Homo sapiens: one gene and its partners. The protein of the gene in region 3 purifies or fractionates together with the protein of the main gene of each other region. This does not show direct contact. Each region holds a gene or a part of one and is shown on either strand. Other genes may lie near its edges.

Region 1 (3,500 bases), on a different chromosome or scaffold from region 3:
TATTCAGGCAGCTACCGCTTATGCAACACTTTTCATAATCTTTTAAAAACTATTTTTAAACATTTTTTCATAATCTTAATAAAATCATTTGACAGTTCCGCTTAGCTGAAATGATACAGCCTACATTTTATGTGGTAAATATCATTATATAAATATTTCTGTGTTCATGTAATTTTTGTGTTTAAACCCTCAAAAAATCAAGTAATGGGACATCATCTTTTATGTCATGTGAATACTACCAATTAAATCTCTGTAGTCAAATGTTATAAAGTATCGAGATTTTCATTTAAAAATGTTCTAGCAGCTGGGCACAGTGGCTCATGCTGTAATCTCAGCACTCTGGGAGGCCAAGGTGGGTGGATCACTTGAGGTCAGGAGTTTGAGACCAGCCTGGCCAACATGGTGAAACGCTGTCTTTACTAAAAATACAAAATACAGGCACATGCCTGTGATCCCAGCTACTCGGGAGGCTGAGGCAGGAGAAGCACTTGAACCTGGGAGGCCGAGGTTCCAATAAGCCAAGATTGTGCCACTGTACTCTAGCCTGGGTGACAGAGCGAGATTCCAACTCTAAATAACGAAATAATGTTCTAGCATTTGTAGAAGTTTGAGCAACTAAATTAAGTAAAACTAATCTAAGAAAAGACATTAAATAATGACTACTTAATTTTTATTGTAGGAAATACATAAAAATAACAGAACACAAGTCTGAGCACAAATGTAATTACATTCTATTAAGAGGAAAGAGCTAGTTACAAGCCACTTTGTAAGATATTATTTTGTAAAAAGATAACTACTACATAGAGCTATTATCTATATATGTAAAGAAAAAACTCTGGAAGGCTATATGCTAATAGTGGCTTATCTCAAAATGGTGAGATTACATTATTTCTTTTTATTTACATTTTCTTATGTTTTCTGAATTTTATTTATAACTGGTATATAATACTTTTATTACAAAAACAAGCAATCTCTGTTTGAAGAGAAGCAACAAGTAAAAGCCAAAATCTTCAACCAGAAAATGAAGCTGCTATTGTCATGTGTCCCACACATTCCTCATCATAAAATACCGTAACCAGTGTTTGGAAGCAAGATTATCAATAAACAAAATAAGATCTTCATATTTCTAGCTTGAACACTTATTTTTATATCCTATTCACACTTAATGCATTTTCTTTACATAAACATCGACCATTTTCCTTACAGATTTTTTCTGTACATACGTACACGTACATATACACACCTGAGAGCATTTAGAAGACCTTCCACACTATTAGGAGGTTGGTCCTTAAGAACTTTGATACAACCTTTCATCTAAAGAAAAAGAAAACAGAAAAGGTAAAACAGCCATTTTTTTCATGTAACATTCCTTTTCAAAATAGTAAAATAAATCAAGACCATAACTATGGAACTCAAGAGATTACATACTATGTCAAATTAATTATTCTTAGAACAGAAAAAAACCCAACCTAAGAGTTATTATTCTCACTTAGTGAAAACAAAATCTTTTTGAGAACAAAATCAGTCAAACTAATATACCACACATGCAATGAAAAACAAACGGTTTGCTAAGGGAAGACTTCTGGAAAAGGTGCTGAGTGGCGATTTAAAGGACAGAATGGGCTGGGCAGGGTGGCTCAGGCCTGTAATTCCAACACTTTGGGAGGCTGAGGCGGGCGGATCACAAGGTCAGGAGTTCGAGACCATCCTGCCTAACACGGTAAAACCCCGTCTCTACTAAAAATACAAAAAAATTAGCCAGGCGTGGTGGTGGGCGCCTGTAGTCCCAGCTACTCGGGAGGCTGAGGCAGGAGAATGGCGTGAACCCAGGAGGCAGAGCTTGCAGTGAGCCGAGATCGCACTACTGCACTCCAGCCTGGGTGACAGAGCGAGACTCCGTCACAAAAAATAAAATAAAATAAAAAATAAAGGACAGAATGAGTATGTTACTAAGGAAAAGAAGAACTTTCAGGTAGAGAAACCTCACAGAGTAAAGTATCACACAGAGGACAGATAGGAATTTTTCAGCACTGCACCTGGAGTTATGAGAGGCTGAAAGCCAGGATGAGTTATACGAAGTGTTATGCCTGGCAGCAGGGGACTCACAGGTTATTTTAAAAGGTAACCACTTGATGACGATGGTATTTAAGATATATTAGCCTGGTTGTTATAAAAAAGCATAATACAGCAGAAAGAACACAGGCTTTGGAAGCCAGAGAAATGTGGGTTCTACCTTTTCTAGCAACTCTTTTTATTTTTGAGATGGAGTCTCGCTCTGTCACCCAGGCTGGAGTGTAGTGGCGCAATCTTGGTTCACTGCAACCTCTGCCTCCTGGATTTAAGCGATTCTCCCACCTCAGCCTCCCGAGTAGCTGGGACTACAGATGTGTGCCACCACACCCAGCTAATTTTTGTATTTTTTTTCAGTAGAGATGAGGTTTCACCATGTTGGCCAGGCTGGTCTTGAACTCCTAACCTTAGGTGATCCGCCTGCCTCGGCCTGCCAAAGTGCTGGGATTACAGGCATAAACCACTGCACCCGGCCTACTAGCAATTCTATTACTTGATCTGCTAAACTTTAGTTGCCCTGTCAGTAAAGGGAGATGACACCTAAAAGAGTATTTTCAGAGTCACAAGGGAGAACAAACGTAAAATTCCTGGGACATGGCAACCATACAGTAAATATTAACTCATTTCTCTTTACATATGACAGGTGTACATGAAGGCAACAAGCTTGGCTAGTAATCAGTAATCGAGATCCGAAATGCTAAGAGCCTAAACTAGCTATGAAAGGGAAACGGGAAGACAATTCTCACCAAACACTAATGAACTAGATGTGAGAGGTTGGGGAAAGAAACTACGAAGTAGAGAAATTAGAAAACTATTTCTAATACAAACTTTTACAGAGAGAAGAAAAGTCGAGAGCCAACTATAGTCACAAATTATTATGACTAGGTAGGGGAGGGAAAATACATAAAGTCTTCATCTTTTTCCACTGGAGCATCCTACTGGCTGTCTTTTTAATTTCAAGACAGGGTCTCTCTCTCACCCAGACTGAATGCAGTGGTGTGATCGTGGCTCACTGCAGGCTGGAACTCCTGGGCTCAAGGGATCCTCCCACTTCAGCCTCTCAACGTAGCTGTGACTACCGATGTGTGCCACCACACCTGGCTAATTTTTTTTTTTTTTTTGTAGAAATGGGGGTCTCACTATGCTGCCCAGGCTGGTCTTCTACTCCTGGGCTCAAGTGATCCTCCTGCTTCAGCCTGCCAAAGTGCTTGGGCTACAGGCATGAGCCAGCACGCCCAGCAGCACTACTGACTTTTTATATGCATTCTGAAATAAACATTTTATTTGAAATGGCCTTTGGCCAAAGGAATTAAAGGATATGACTCAAAATTCCTTATATCTAATTATCTATTTATATTGCCAAATACGTAGTAGAAGCCTTCCAGGAGGTACTCACTAGACAATATAGTCATCCTTTGATCATTCTATTC
Region 2 (3,500 bases), on a different chromosome or scaffold from region 3:
TTTTTATGTTTGTGAGACTCATCCATATGTTACAATATAATTATAGATCATTCATTCTCATTGCTTTATAATATTGCATTTTATGAGCATATTACAATCTGTTTACTTCGTTGTGATGGATATTTGAGTACTTTTCAGTTTGGAGTTGTTAGGAAGAATGCTGCTATAAACATTCTGACACTTTTTTGCTGAACATATGTATGAATACATCTGTTGGATATATCCCTCCCTAGAAGTGAATCACTGGGTCATAGTGTGTGTACATACACAGCTTTAGTAGATTCTAAAATAGAAAACATTCTAAAATGAGAATTTATATATAGTTATGTGAGTTTACTCTCTTAAATACGAAAATAAGGCTCATTCTTAATATGAGATGTGACTTTAATGAATGGTTTGTTAATAAAACATTAGAACATGTTTTATTAGAACTTTCTGTAAAGGGCCAGGTAGTAAATCTTTTAGGCATAGGGGCCATGTGGTCTCTGTTGCAGCTGCCGAACCTGCCATTGTCGTGTGAATGCAACCTTAAATAATATGTAAGAATGAGCATGGCTGTGTTCTAAAGAAACTTTATTCAGCGGACACCGAAATTTGAATTTCATGTGTTACAAAATACTACTTTTCTTTCACTTTGTTTTCAGCCATTCAAAAATATAAAAACCACTCTTAGCATGTGAGTCAGACAGAACAGGTGGTGGGCCGGATTGGGTCTGTGCATCCGAATGATTTTTATCCTTTTAAGTCACCTTGAGAGACTGACTGATTTCAGCGGTGCTGCCATTGCTAAAACCATCTTTGAATTATTTGGAACTTCTTTCAGAGCCAGTTTACATGCCTCAAAATGAAAATTAGTCTTCCTGTATTTTTACTCATTTTTGATTAAAAAAAAAGTTTTTATCCAATTTGATCACACACCTCATTCTACTGAAATCACTCCGAGTGACTTTTGGCTGTTTCCAAAAATAAATTGACTCCAAAGGATGAAGATATGTGATCACTGACAGGAGGTTTAATGATGTGCCATAGGTTCTGAAGAAAATTCCTAAAGAGGAATTCCAAAAGTGCTCTGAGCAATGGCAGCGCCCTTGGAATAAGGGTGTAGCTTCCCGAGGTGACTGACTGGCTGGAAGGAGGCAGCCATCATTTGGATGTTTAAATACTGGTATGTTATTTAAAAAAACAAAACAAAACAAATCAAGCCGATTACATCAGTGTTAGATTGTTTTTACCCTAACATGAATGACCCATGGAAAAAGTAGCTAATTTGGAAGACCCAATAATCTGAATGTCTTTTATATTCAATTCAGTAAAGATTATTATATTAGTATTTATATCTCCTTAGTTATGATTTTCTTAGGCCAATATAATATGATTTAATCTCTCACTGGAAAACATGAAGGTGTAGCCATGCCACATATATCACCTTTGGTTAAAGTTGCCCAAAAATACCTAAAATTAGTGATAAAAAATTATCATTCTTCTAAAACTTACAATAGTATTGTCTGATTTATCTTAAGTACTCATTGTATTTCCATCATACTCTGTGTTTCATTCTGTTAATGATTGCTGCATTGTATTCAAATATTCTGTTTATATTCTATACATTTGTTACTGGAACTCTGCCACATCGGTGGTTAAAAAATGTTTGTTGAACTAAAGCAGTTGTCTTGAAATTTATCTTTCTCCTTCTTGTGCCCTGGAATCCCTGCTAGGTAGATAATTATGAGCATAGTCACTATCACTATTTAATATGTCCAGAAAAATACTTGATTTGGGAACTTTTTTGACAATTAAAATGAGTTTGAGAGATTTTTGTGTAATTTGATTATTTAGTATTAAGTTTTTCTAGTTAATTAGATAAATGTTATATCTAGTTTCTGTTAGCACTGATTATTGAGACTGTATGGTGCTATTTTCTTTCAAGAACTGCAGTTATCCAAATGTACAAACTAAAATGTTTCACTTTGTTTTTCTCCTACTTTAGTCCACCAATCGATTACTTTGATGTATTTAAAGAATCAAAAGAGCAAAATTTCTATGGGTCACAGGAATCCATCATTGCTTTATGTACTCACCTGCAACAATTGATAAGAACTATTGAAGACCTAGATGAAAATCAGCTGAAAGATGAGTTTTTTAAACTTCTGCAGGTAAATGTGATCATTAATCTTCTGAGTATGTTTTATTTAAACAGAAAATAAACTGCTATACAGTTAACAAAACATGTAAATATTTTTCTTTGCTATAATTGATGATTTTTTATCTAGTGGTGTTAAAAGATGAAAATCCATTTAATTGCTAGAAATGGGTTTGAAATATTTTTCTGCTCTCACTGGCTATGATTTTAGTGGCAAAGAAGTTATCTGACTTCCTAGCTTCTGTCATACTTGAGAGAATACTTCATAGTAATTTGCTTAGCTTTTGTCATGCTTGAAAGAATTCTTAATAGTAATTTGGTCTCCCAGCTGACTTGGGTGTGTGTTGGCTCTGTGGCTAATTTGTGTTTGGACCTGAGGCCTGTCACTTAATTTCTCTGGGCCTCAGTTTCCTCCTCTGTTCAGTGAGGATAATGTGTACTGTGTAATTTGATGTGAGAATTCAACTAGATGCTTGCATGTGAAGTGCTGAGCACAGAGCCTGGGATACAGCCTGCTGTTAGCATCGGTAGGTGATAATACTCGGGTATTCAGTTGGCCCATTAATACAGTTTCATTACATTTCTTTATCTTGTATTCAGTTTAGTTTTTAATTCATGCAAACATCCTGAAATTTACAACACATTATTAGAATCAGAACTATTAGGAGACGTGGTACACAGCAGTATCCCCAGCCCTCACATTTTCCAGAAAAAGTGAGGAAGACTTTCAAAAAGAAATGTTAGAAAGTGCTATGAAGAGAAATAAAGCAGGAAAAGGGCGTTGGGAATGTTGGAGAAGGGATCAGGGCTGCCAGGGAAGGGTCCATGGAGGCTGAGGCCACAGACCTGAAGGCAGGGAAGGAGTAAGTCAGGTGTATGTCTGCGGAGTACATGGAGAGGTGAGAAAAATTGCAAGGAAACCCTGTAGTTACTGAGAGGTAGCGGGGTGGAAGGGACACAGAACGGCTTGTATTAAATAAATTTTTACTAAAAGTGAAACAGAAGCCATCAGAGGGTTTTGAACAGAGAGGTAATGCTATTTGACTATTTCAAGGAATGTTTCTGAGAATAGACTGCAGGGGCTGAAGGTGGAAATGGGGAGAGCTGGTCTGAAAATGACTTGGGGAGGGAGGTTGGGGCCAAGTTGGTAGCATAAGAGTTAGTGACATCACCAGAGCCTGGGTGTTCTTTGAACATAGAAGCTACAGAACTTGCTAACAGATTATACCTGGAGACGAAGCCCTGGTGAGACCCCGAGGGCAAGCAAAGTCACAAATAAAGGCATATTTTGAGTTCAAAACAAAAATTGTCAGGACATTGTTTTGTTTTTTGAGACAGAGTCTCGCTCTGTTGCCCAGGT
Region 3 (3,500 bases):
GAGGCACAGGTGCAAAGGCCCACATCACCTGAAGGAAGTGGAGCCTGTGCAGAGAGGAAGAAAACTCAAATACTCCAGCGGGCCCTCTGAGCCCACCATATCCACATAACAAGAATGGATATTACAAAAAGGTATCAAAGAAAAATTAAAGATTGAGCAAAAAATCACAGAAATAGTACAAGAAAACATCCCGGAACTAGAGGACGTGAATTTCCAGAATCAAAACCGTCTGTGAGAAGCCAGCACAACAGCTGAGTAAAAGACCCATACCCTGGTGTTAATACACATCATAAAACTGCAGAACACCAGAGATAGAGAATATCCTCAAAGCTTCCAGAAGGGGAGAAAACAAACAAAATACGGTCACGTAAGAAGGATTTAAATCACCACATCTCTAGAGCAATTACAGATGCCTTCAACATTCTGAGAGAACCTTATTTCCAATCTAGAATTATATAACTGCCAAACTATCAAACAAGTGTGTGGGCAAAACCAGGTCATTCAAATACTTCTTAGAAATAACTGAAGTATATGCTTTTAAAAAATAAAGACATAAGCCCAGAAAGAGGAAGATACGGTTCCTGCACAGGAAAGGGCAGGTCCAGGAGGACCCCAGGCAGCAGTTCTTGAGAGCAACAGTAAAGGCAGGAGGAGGGGGCAGGGCTCCAATAAACAGGTGATACATTTGAGCTCACAGAAAATGTTACTGATAAGAATGTGACAAATACATTGGAGCATGTGGGAAAAAAATTAACAGTAGGTACATGAAAAACACAGGTGAAGGCCAACCTACACACCAGGAGGAACACACTGTAATAGATCATCCAGCTCAACAGTGAACAGTATTTGACAGAGGTGTAAGTACATAAAAGCTACCTGTTTTAGCAAAAAATTACAATAGAACTATATTAGGGGATAGAGGGCATGGAAAAATAGGAAAGTGGTGGGATGCAAGAGCTAAATACAAATCTATCACAACAAGAAATCAACAGGCCAAACATGAGGGGAAAACCAAGAAAGAATAACAAACCAACTATTTAGCAACAAGAAGATACAGCAGACTCTCAAAAAAAGTCTTTTTGTTCAACATCGTTTTTTCATAACATTGATGAGAGAATAAGTGATTCCTGGCTGAGGCTACCCGTTTGTGTGGAGTTGGCATGCTCCCCATGTCTGTGTGGGTTTTCTCCAGGTATTCTGCTTTCCTCCCACGTCTCAAAGATGTGCCTGCTAGGTTAGCTGGTGTGTCTAGATGGTCCCTGTGTTTGTGTGTGTGTGCATGCACACCCTATGGCATAGACAGCGTCCTGTCCAGGGCTGGCGCCTGCCTTGTGCCCTGAGCTGCCAGCATAGGCTCCAGCCACCTGTGAGCCTAAGCTGGAAAATAAATGAATGAATACAAATTACCAGCAAATAAAAATCTGCAAAGTCTATGGTAATCATCCAAATGCACAACAATAAATGATGTGGTACAATAGCTCTCAGTGAGCCTGCCCTATTGGTGATTGATTGCTTTGGAAATGAGTATGGTGGTAGGAAATGCTTCTGACAATTTTCACTTTGCACACATTTATTCCTTGATTTAACCCACCACCACTATGACTGCAGTAACTCACTGACTCACCAAAAAGTGGGTGAAAATCTTACTTGTTTCAGTGTTTCATATTAGAAATGTTTGGGTCTTTATTTAGAAATTGGGTATGTTTTTGTGACCAGAAAAACGCCATAGAAACCATATGGTAAAACTGGTTTTGTTATATCATGTTTCAAGAATACTGATGGTGTTGACCACTTACTGTAAAGACAGAGGAAAAGAGGAAAACAACTGAGTGGTTGCCTCTAAAGAATGGGACTTTGAGGTAGGGAGGGCAGAGAAACGGTTTTTGTTTTGTTGGGTTTTTTTTTGGTGACAGAGTCTCGCTCTGTCACCTAGGCTGGAGTGCAATGGTGCGACCTCGACTCACCGCAACCTCCATCTCTCCAGTTCCAGCGATTCTCCTACCTCAGCCTCCCAAGTAGCTGGGATTACAGGCACACACCACCATGCTCAGCTAATTTTAGTATTTTTAGTAGAGATTGGGTTTCACCATGTTGGCCAGGCTGGTCTTGAACTCCTGACCTCAGGCAATCCACCTGCCTCAGCCTCCCAAAGTGCTGGGATTACAGGTATGAGCCACTGGACCTGGCCTGAGAAACTGTTTTTTAATTCCAAATCTTTTATTACTATTTGACTTTTAAACTGTATTACACAAATTACTTTTTCTTTTTTGAGATGGGTCTGTCTCTGTCACCCAGGCTGGAGTGCAGTACTGCAATCATGGTTCACTGCAGCTGCAGCCTTGAATTCCCGGGCTCAAATGATCCTCCCACCTCAGCCTCAAGGGTTAGTTAGGACCATAGGTGCGTCACCATGCCCAGCTAATTTTGTGATTTTCTGTAGAGACGAGGTCTTGCTATGTTGCCCAGGCGATCTCAAACTCCTAGGCTCAAAAGATCCTCCCCGCTAGGCCTCCCAAAGTGCTGGGATTAAGGTGTGAGCCATGCACCCCACCCCCATTTAGGACATTTTTTTTTTTTTTTTTTTTGAGACGGAGTCTCATACTTTCACCCAGGCTGGAATGCAGTGGCGCGATCTTGGCTCACTGCAAGCTCTGCCTCCTGGGTTCACGCCACTCTCCTGCCTCAGCCTCCCGAGTAGCTGGGACTACAGGTGCCTGCCACCACGCCCAGCTAATTTTTGTATTTTTAGTAGAGACAGGGTTTCACCGTGTTAGCCAGGATGCTCTCCATCTCCTGATCTCGTGATCCGCCCACCTCGGCCTCCCAAAGTGCTAGGGTTACAGGCGTAAGCCACCGCGCCTGGCCAGAAATCTTAAAAGTATATTCCAACACCACTCAATGAAGTAACCTCCAAACATAAACATTAGCTCAGTGGCAAAAAGTTAAATTCTGGGGACAAGAGCAGAATCCAGTTTCTTAGTATCAATGCTAAATGTATTCAAGATAAATCTGAAATAAATCCCACTAATTCGGGCTGAAAGAGAAGTATTTCAGTATCAGTGGAAAATCTTCATAGACTAGAAACAGAGTTGCAAAAATCTTTCAAATGACAAAAAACTGAAGCCCAAATTATTTGTTCAAGTACGCAGCGGCTGAACTGGAACTAGTCCCACATCTCCTGGCTCCCAATGACTGTACTTTCCAGGGCACCTCCCAAGAGTTCCTGCTAATTGCCTCCTTTAATCTCTCTAAAACCATAAAACAATGTCCAAGTACTTCCTGCTCTTCAAGGAAATGGAATCGCTGGTTAATCTGCAACTAGCAAATCACAGTTTGAGGAGGCGTAACTTAACTTTATACCACTAATTAACCTTAAATTTGTGATAAACGCAAGTTCCTTTATTAGTTAGTCCTTGTTTGTTTATATTTGCGAAATACTAATGCAGCCTTTTTGTTCCTGAATAGACTAGGAAATATCTTTAAAAAGAAACTATCAAGTT
Region 4 (3,500 bases), on a different chromosome or scaffold from region 3:
GGAGAGCCAGCTCCCAGACAGGAAGCAGTTGAGAAATTAGGAACCCAGGGCCGAGCCCCTTTCCTTCTTGCCATCCTGCCCTTCTTCTCCGCCCCGCCCATCTCCAAGGCCTGTCTCTGACACAAACCCACAAGGACCACAGCCCCTGTTCCAGCTTCTCCCACAGCCTTTCCAGATGAGTCTGGACCAGCCTCTTCCTGGCCCGGCCCTCAGTTTCCCTAGCTGGACTGGAGCGGTGGCCCTGAGGACTCCCTGAGGAGTGAGAGCTACTCTTCTGTTTCTCAGATTATTCAGGTGGAGGTGTCCAAAGCCCCATTTTACGAATGGGGAACAGGGAGAGAGAGGACTTGTTCTGGGCCACAGCATGAAAAGGCTGGGCTGGAGAACAAACTCAGACTGCAAGCCTAGGGCTCCTGCCACTGCCCACAGCCCTCTGGCCTGTGACCGACAACTGGAATAAGGATAGGACAGGAACAGCATTGTGCGCAGTGAACACCACCTCCAAACACCAGGTCACCCCAGGGAAGAGGGGACTTCAGCCACAGGAGGCAGCAGTGCCCACGCTAGCCTACGGGATGGAGGGGGCTGGGCAGAATAGAGGAGGGGCAGTCTTATTTGGAGGAGTTGGCCTGTCCAGGGACTGAGCTGGGGACAGAGCTGGGGAACTGAGCTTGGACCCTGCCCCTAGGTGGCTTTCTGGTAACAGGCCTGCTGGCTCAGGAGAGGGTGCCCTCTGCACCCACTGTTAATGCAGCAGCCATCCTGATTATTACCCTGGACTCTGGAGCCAGATTGTCCAGGTTCAAACCCCAGCAAGTTGTCACCGGCTGGCAGACATTGCTGCTGCTTTTTTTTTTTTTTTTTTGAGATGGAGATTCACTCTCGTTGCCCAGGCTGGAGTGCAATGGTGTGATCTCGGCTCACTGCAATCTCCACCTCTCGGGTTAAAGCAATTCTCCTGCCTCAGCCTTCCGAGTAGCTGGTATTACAGGCGCCCACCAGCATGCCCGACTAATTTTTGTACTTTTAGTAGAGATGGGGTTTCACCATGTTGGCCAGGCTGGTCTTGAACTCTTAACCTCAGGTGATCCACCAGCTTTGGCCTCCCAAAGTGCTGGGATTACAGGCGTGAACCACCACGCCCAGCCCTTACTTCTGAATCTCTCTGTGCCTCAGGATCCTCCCCATGGAGCAAATATCTTAGAGGGTTGCTGTGGGGGTTACCTAGATAACGCACATGCTCGGCTAAGTGCTGCGTGGGCGCCCAGTGAATGACGGCCGTTGCTATTACTGCCTTTTTCCAAACTCACCAGGCCCTCTCGGCCTCTAGACTTTTTGCACAGGCAGTTTCTATCAGCTGGAATGCCTTCGGGCACTTTTTTTCTTAATTTTTATTTTTTAGAGGTGGAGTTGTTGCCCAGGCTGGAGTGCAGCAGTATAGTCATATTTCACTGCAACCTCGACTTCCTGGGCTCAAGGGATCCTGCTGCCGCAGCCACAGCCTCCCAAGTAGCTGGTACTCCAGGTACGAGCCACGTCGTCCTGCCCTCCTGGCACTTTTCACAGCTAATTCCTACTCATCATTCTAGTCTCAGCTTAAATGTGACCTCTTCCAGGAAAGCTTCTGTGAAGCCTGCGTCAGGGACCTCCTCTGTGATCCCAGTGCCCTGATTTCTCCCACCGCTCAGCTCTGATTGAATCAATGGATTCGGCTCTGCTACGAATCAGCTAACTTCTAGGCAAGTTGCTGGATCCCTCTCCTGGCTCAAAGGGGATGATTCCTTGGTTCTGTTGACTTCTCAGGTGTGGGAGTGGAGGGATCACAGAACTTGGGATTCTCCACCCTGAGGTCTCTGGAAGGAAAATGATGTGAGGCCCCGCAAGGGTAGAACCCGACCTGGAGAAGTGAAACCTCCAGGAGGCCAGGCCTTTACTAGCTTGTTTCTGAGCCCAGCAGCTCAGGACAATCGGCCCCGCCCACTTCGAGACTGGAGCGCGAACGCCCCGCCCGCGCCGCGCACCTGGCTGCCTGGCGGCCTCTCGGACCCGACGTCACGCACTGGCTCGCGCTCCGCTTCCGGCTCGGGGCCGTCGCGCGTCTGGTCGGCGACCCCCCGGGCGCCCCTCAGCCGCGCCAGCTCGCGGCCCCGTGCCTCGCACTCGCCCTGCGCCTCTTGGCGCTCGCGCCGTGCGCCCGCCAGCTCCTTGGTGAGCGCGTCCAGGCGCTGGCGCAGCTGGCGCACCTCCTCGCGCGCGCGGTTGCGCTCAGCGCGCACCTTGCTCCATTTCTCGCGCCAATTGGCAGTGCAGTCCGACCACCGGCGCATGGTCTTCTCCATCTGCGCCGCCCGCGCCCGCGCCTCCTCCAGCTCCCGCAGCCGCAGCTCCTCGCGGCTCTCCCAGTCGCCGTCGGCCAGCAGCGCGGGCGCGGGGGGCAGGGGCAGTGCGGGCGGCGGCCCGGGCGAGGGCGTGCCGCTGGGCGGCGTGGGCGGCAAGGAGTCGGCAGGCCCCATGCGCTCCGGCGACGGGCTGCCCAGGATGGTCAGGAGGCTGCCCTTGGACAGCTGCGGGGACTCGGCCAGCCGGGGGCTGGGCCCGTGGCTCATGGTGCGGCCGGGCGGGCCCTGAGCTCGAACTCGCGGTCGGGCTCAGGGGCGGCTCCGGGGACGCGCGGCGGGCGCGATACAACTGTGCATGATGACGCCGTGCCCCGCTTCCCTCTGGGCCACCGGGCGGAGGACGCCTCCTCGGACCTACGGGAGAACACAACCGTTATTGGACTGCGACCACCGTCAGTCTCGAAGATCAGCCGCGCCAAGGCCCTGGCGGAGGGAACAGAACGGCCAAGGTAGGAGGAGAGAGTTCTGTTCCAGGAGAGTCCCAATGAGGCAGGATTGGTGGAGCAAGGGCCCGCAAAGGCCTCCTCAGTGGCCTCGACTCCCTGCTCCAATCCCTTCACCCAGCGGCGCTAATCTGAAACCTTGATCTGTTCTTTATTCTCCCGGTCCCGGCTCACACACTGATGGCTTATACTATACTACTATGCAACTTCCGCACAGGACCCAGGCGGGGGCACTGGGCTGGTGCCAGGAGTCCCCTCCCTGCCTTTTCCTGCACTGGGCTAACTCTTCTCATATTTAAGACTCTTCTGAGGTATCACTTCCTCCTGGAAGCCCTCCTGGAGCACTTCAGGCCAGGTCCATCAGCCCCTTATGTGTCTCCATCACTGCACTAACTTACCCTGTCATTTATGTGTCTGCTGTGTACCTTTAACCAAGGCTGTGAGTTTGCTGTGGTCCAGGACTGGGTCCTGACCACTGTTTTAGTCCCAACACATGATGACAATGATATTTGTGGAGGGCAGGCCACAAGCCAGGCACTGTGCCCAGGGCTTTAGGTGAACGATCTCATTTATTCCTTAAAGAGTGGAGGTGAAGAAAATGATTACCTCCATTTATGGTATCTATGAGTACAAATTCAAACTCTAGTAAGGATTTGCT

Evidence for each region. Proteins that work in one complex are often made in the same cells at the same time.
Region 1: the proteins of FAM118B (region 3) and CYRIB purify together in Homo sapiens (affinity purification with mass spectrometry; one large-scale study listed by BioGRID and IntAct). This does not show direct contact.
Region 2: the proteins of FAM118B (region 3) and DCPH1 purify together in Homo sapiens (affinity purification with mass spectrometry; one large-scale study listed by BioGRID and IntAct). This does not show direct contact.
Region 4: the proteins of FAM118B (region 3) and CCDC102A purify together in Homo sapiens (affinity purification with mass spectrometry; one large-scale study listed by BioGRID and IntAct). This does not show direct contact.

Annotation. Positions count from the first base shown.
Region 1 is NC_000008.11:129,845,561-129,849,060, forward strand, and holds part of CYRIB (CYFIP-related Rac1 interactor B), read right to left. Parts: intron 1,315-3,500; coding exon 1,244-1,314; intron 1-1,243. UniProt on the Homo sapiens protein: Negatively regulates RAC1 signaling and RAC1-driven cytoskeletal remodeling. Regulates chemotaxis, cell migration and epithelial polarization by controlling the polarity, plasticity, duration and extent of protrusions.
Region 2 is NC_000006.12:151,462,466-151,465,965, forward strand, and holds part of DCPH1 (damage-control phosphatase ARMT1), read left to right. Parts: intron 1-1,987; coding exon 1,988-2,153; intron 2,154-3,500. UniProt on the Homo sapiens protein: Metal-dependent phosphatase that shows phosphatase activity against several substrates, including fructose-1-phosphate and fructose-6-phosphate.
Region 3 is NC_000011.10:126,214,782-126,218,281, reverse strand, and holds part of FAM118B (protein FAM118B), read right to left. Parts: intron 1-3,500. UniProt on the Homo sapiens protein: May play a role in Cajal bodies formation.
Region 4 is NC_000016.10:57,526,572-57,530,071, forward strand, and holds part of CCDC102A (coiled-coil domain-containing protein 102A), read right to left. Parts: intron 2,849-3,500; coding exon of another isoform or gene 2,695-2,848; 5' UTR 2,607-2,694; coding exon 2,022-2,606; intron 1-2,021. Other genes in the region: ADGRG5 (adhesion G-protein coupled receptor G5), read left to right, coding at 2,695-2,848.